2 separate regions of the Homo sapiens genome follow, and region 1 is linked to region 2. Evidence: fine-mapped expression QTL. Tissue or cell type: whole blood. Region 2 holds a variant in brackets; the other region holds the start of a gene. All regions are shown on one strand. Distances are between the middles of the regions.

Evidence for each region. PIP is the estimated chance that this variant, and not a neighbour inherited with it, causes the effect.
Region 1: it holds the start of LINC01801, and the variant in region 2 is fine-mapped to the expression of LINC01801 in whole blood (TOPMed, PIP above 0.99). The same link has a PIP of 0.9 or more in testis.

What each region holds. Positions count from the first base shown.
Region 1 is chr19:34,831,499-34,834,112 of GRCh38, forward strand. LINC01801 (long intergenic non-protein coding RNA 1801) reads right to left here and starts at 1,371. Exons shown (of 6, transcript NR_033982.1): 1 at 1,227-1,371; 2 at 832-1,038.
Region 2 is chr19:34,814,858-34,817,614 of GRCh38, forward strand. It overlaps LINC01801 (long intergenic non-protein coding RNA 1801), which reads right to left. Exons shown (of 6, transcript NR_033982.1): 6 at 1,297-2,633. Among named protein-coding and RNA genes, the nearest start is that of LINC01801, 17 kb to the right of the region's middle. The variant G/A (reference allele first, on the strand shown) is at 1,432.

The DNA of each region.
Region 1 (2,614 bases), 17 kb after region 2:
CCTTGCTGCGAAATATTTCTAGGAGAAAATACTCAAGACCTAAATCTATGGAGATATATATCATCCCTGTGGCCTGGAAAAGTTAATATTGGCAAGTTGTCCATCTTGGCCAGGACCCTGAAAGATAGTCTATGTTATTGTAAGAAAGATTGGTGTCCTTGGGGGCATGGGCTTTTAAGCCAGGGTGGAATCTGCAGAAGTCTGAGGTGCCATTTCCTGTCCCTATACCTGGGAGAAAATAGCTCTCAGACAGCTGTGTGGCTTTCTGCAAAGCTCAATTAGAAGAGAAATTATCAGGCGTGGTGGCGCATGCCTGCAGTCTCAGCTACTTGGGAAGCTGAGGTGGGAGGATCTCTTGAGCCCAGGAGTTCGAGGTTGCAGTGAGCTGTGACTCCAGCCTGTGTGACAGAGTGATACGCTGTCTGGAGAAATTCATCATGGAGATATGCTGATAATTGGTGGTCCCTGCCTACATCCTCCCAGGAGACTGAGCCAGACCCGGTGTGGCCAATGGTCCACTTATAAATTGAACCATGTTAGACCTCCTAACAGTGCAAGTACTCATTACAGCTCTGACATGGTGCTAAGCACCCCAAGTATTATAAACAAGTGTAATCCATTATGCACACACGGTGAGGCTACACCAAAGTCTGGTGGTTAAATGCATGATCTGTGGAATCAGACAGCATGGGTTCAAACCCTGGCTGGGGTGAGATGGGGAACTTTCTAAGGCTTAAATGCTGTTTTACCAAATATTTTAAAAGAAGTGAAAATACACTGCCTGTTAGAAAGGGAAGTTTTGGGGTGAAGCATGTGGGCAGTTTAGAATACCTGGTGTCCACCTCAGAAACCATCACAGCCCAGATGTTATAGGTTCAGGCCTTTCCAGGGCGGGCACATAGAATGTCCTCGCCTCCAAGGTTTGGAGAGCTGCGCTATAAAGGTTCTTGCAGGCGGTGTCCTGAGCCCAGAGCTGCCTGCAGGCGGGCAGGAGTTGTGGGGGTGTTGGCATGATCTGGTGTCCTCTGTGGCGGCTGCCTGAAAAGAAGAGGCCGAGGGTTCTTTGTCCTATGTCTCTCCGAATCTTAATACCTGCCCTGCAGCAGACTCCCTGGCTGCCAGGGCACACCGGTCACCCCGGTAGACGGTGCCGCCCCGCCCTCGCCAACCCCTTATCCCAACTCCCATTTCCAGCCTTCCAGGAAGCCCGATCCCCACCCCCGCACCATGTGAGCTGCTCCTCTACTCCGCGTAGGGGAGGCTCTGCCTCCGGTGACCCCGAGGGAAAGAGCTAGAGCACCCACAGGTGCTGACTGCTGCGGCGCTGAGGACGCTGCACACCCGTTCACCGGCTGACCCAGTGCTGCTGACAACCAGCGTCCGCGGCCCCCAACCGTCGAACAGAGCGCGTGGGACCATCTGGTGCCAAACGCCTGCAACGGAGTGCAGAAGGTCACGAGGCGCTAGAGACCGGTTGGGGGCAGGCGGTTGGGCCTTGACGCTCTTTGCTGGGCGTCGTTTTTTCTTCTCGCCCCCTTCGCTCCTGTGCGCTTAGTGCACAAGCCCTGGGCTCACACACCCTTTCTCTGTCACGTGTTCCAACAGCATCTCACCTGCATCGGGCTGAACAGGAGACCTCAATTTTCTCCTCTACTCCAAGGATTCGCCGGCTCACAATTGCTCTTCATATCTTCAGCAAGCTTTGTCTGTGCCCTGCCCCTCTGTCCCCCATTGCCTACCATACCCGCTCCCACCAAGCCTGCATCACCTCGCTGTCTCTGTGCCTCTCCCCGGCCCCCTTCCAGGCCTTTCTCCCACAATTTCTGGTCTTTGCTCCTGGGTGTTCCGTCGACCCTAAGAGGCGGTGTCTGATCTGGCAGGCTCAATGCCTTTCTCTGGCGCTGTCTGCACCTCCAATATATTCAGTGACTCAGGAAGGATCCATCCTGCAGGGCCCAGATAGACTCTCCTGTTTGCCACCTGAGCAGAAAGGCACCTCTGTGAGGTCTTTGCCACCCAGTCACCCTACCAGACCCAATCAGCACGTGGGAGACGTGGATGACAGGAGGACAGAGATGGAGAGGGACCAAAAGACTACATGGGGCCTTGAAGGATGTCATAAGAACGTTGCCTTTTACTGAGAGATGGGAACCATGGAGGGTTTCAAACTGCTGAGACTGGCATGATATGACTTAGGGCTTTTTTGTTTGTTTGTTTGTTTGTTTTTTCTTTTTTGTGACGGAGTCTCAGAGTCTTCCTCTGTCATCCAGGCTGGAGTGCAGTGGTGTGATCTTGGTTCACTAGAACCTCTGTCTCCCGGGTTCAAGACATTCTCCTGCCTCAGCCTCCCGAGTAGCTGGGATTACAGGCACCCACCACCACGCCCGGCTAATTTTTGTCTTTTTAGATGTTTTATCTCAGAGAAAGAGCTTCCATGTTCTCTAACTCTTGTAAACAGGTATTCTTCAAGAAACTTTACAATATAACATTCATACACAGAAGTGTACAAATCATCTGTCTATTCCTCAATACATTTTTGCAGAATGAACAAACCTATGTAATCTAGATCAAGAAGCAAAACACAGGCACCTCAGAATCAACCTCATGCTCATTC
Region 2 (2,757 bases):
TTGACCTCCCAGCCTGCTTTGAACCTTTGAGATGACCGACATGGACACTACTATTCCCTGGGTCTCATCTCCTGGTCCCCCCAGGACCCAGGGTTAGCCTGGAAGACTCAAGCTCTGGGCTAGGTTTCCTCTGGTCTTGGAACTCCCATTTGACTGGCTCATTGCAGTGTGGAGTGGACAGCCCCCTGCAAAAGGCAGTCCCCACTAACCCACCTATGTTTATGGTAAACAGCCCTACCCCACTTTGAACCTTTCCTTTAGCCCAGAAGCCACCTCTCAGTCACATTTGGAGCTCCTAAAGGGCAGCAGCAAAGAGTCAGTCTTCTAGGATACCTGTCTGCACCATCATACTTATCACTACTTCAGCAATTGTCTGTTTTCTAGTAGCTAGGACCTTGACCAACTGGGCAGCCAAGTCTGCCTTTAACTCTGATGAAATCAATATGGTTACCATGTCCTCTTTCTAGCCTCCCCCTGGCAGGATCCCCCAATGTATTTGATAGCATTTACCCTTTGAGAAACGTAAAATCTCAATACAAGCTCTAAACTGAGCCTTTACTGCAGCCCAGACACCCAATGGGAGCATAATGCCATCAGATTTTGCGTACGTGTTACCTCCATATCCATCTTTGATATCTCTGCTAGCACCCACTCAGCCTTGGGTGGCACCTCGGGTCCTTTTCCCATTTGCACAGCCACTACTTCTAGCTCTGGAGCCATCACTGGATGCTCAGCATCAGGCACAGTTCACCTTTTGCTAACCCCTCTCTCGACCCATTTCCATTCATGGACTCTGGGGCTTCTTTGGATAATGACAGCTCTAGGACCAGTGTGTCTGCCCCAGACCCAGCTCCACATCTGAAGCACTCAGCTTTAGAACAGGGCCTAGAGGGGCATGCAGCACCTTAGTTTATGTTGGGGAGGCTTACACATGAGCACCGGGGTTCCTGCAAGCCTACAGCACCTCTGGTACAGTTGGAGAGGGCAGTACTACTGAAAGCAAAAACTCCTGGGAAACACTTTCCTCCCTGCCTACAGTCAGAGCAGCTGGGGCCTGTCCTGCCAAAGCACACCTCTTAGAACATCACTGAGAAGAAACATGTTCCAGAAGGCACCTCTGTTCCTTCTTGTGTTCATAACACCTGGAAACCATCTGGCCAAAGCACGTCTGTTGTGGTTGGAGGAGCCCGCACATACCAGTGCTTGGGACACTTCTGTCTTGCAGACAGACCACCTGGAATGCAGCTGGCCAGAGCACATCTGCATCCCTCAAAGGGAAGGAGAAAGCAGCACATCTATGCTTGGAGGCCTTTATGTTTCCACCACAAGCAGAGCACCCTGTTGCACCTTTCCAAGCACCTATGTTGCAGTAGCAGGGGACAACACACTACCTGTGACTGCAAGTCTTCTCTTCTTGTGTCTGGTCAGAGC[G/A]CTTGGGGCCCATATGGCCTGGGCAAACCTGTTACTGCTGGAGAAGCCTGCACAACAGAGAAGAAACATGTGCCCCAAGATACTTCTGTTCATGACTTCTGTCAAACGCCTTTGGACCACTCAGCTTGAGCACATCTGTTTCTGTTGGAGGGGCTGGTGCCATATCTGTGACTGAAGAAACTACTGTTTATGAATACAATCAGAGCATGTGAGGGCCATAAGTCCAGAGTATAGGCAGTGCAATGCCTGCAATGGGAGGAGATGGCACCATACCTGTAATGGGAGGAGATGGCACCATATATGGGTTTGTTTGGGGGGGACACTTCTGTTCATGAACACAGCCAGAACACCTGGGGTCCACAAGTCCTGAATTCAGGTGTACAATGGGAGGAAACAGCACCCCACCTGTGCCTGCAGAAACTTCTGTCCATGAATAGTCAGAGAGCCTGAGGTCCACAAGTCCAGATTAAAGATGGTGCAATGGCAGGACACAGTCCCACACCTATGCTTACTCGCGAATACAGCCAGAGTGCCTGGGTTCCACAAGTGAGGATTCAGATGGCAAGTAGAGGGTACAGTACCATTCAAGTGTTTGGGTACCCTTCTCACCATCATTCAGAGCAACTGGGACACTGGTGGCTGGAGCACACTTGTTGCAGTCAGATGGGAGAACATGTTGAAGAAGATACTTCCATTCTCACCTTCAATCAGAACACCAGGGGCCTAAGCCAGGGTACCTTCCCTCTTTCATTTTGGAGAAAACAACATCACTGAGAAAATATCTGTGCTTCAGGACCTTTTCCACCTGCTTTTGATCAGGTCAAATGTGCTTCTGTGGTGGGCACGGCAAGCACAGCCTCGTCTTTGGGGCACCCTCGGCACCTGCACAGGGATTCTTTGGGGACAGAAGCATGCAGCATCACCCTATTTGTTTTCTTCTCATGTAAGACTTAGGGTCCTCAGTGACCAAAAGCAAAAGCTTCCTCTAGAAATGGCAGGTGACCACTGTTCCCCATGATTTGATCTTGTTCTGCTGGGAGCAGTTTCTGCTCCTTCTAGTTACGGCAAACAAGCTTCACCTGCCCTTTGTCCTTCTAGCACAAACTGGAAGCCCAAGACCCTGGGGTGTTTGTGAATGTGTCCAAGGACTTGGGTTCAGATGAGCCAAGTCAGAAGTCGACACACTAGCCTAAGATGTTCACCTGTGGAGAGAAGAGAGAGATGGGTGAGTATCAGCCGTGCAACACTACACTCTAGTTTCAGTGTTATCCTGGAAGACCTAAGCTTTGGGGGGGTTTCCTCCTGTCTTGGAACTGTCAGGACACC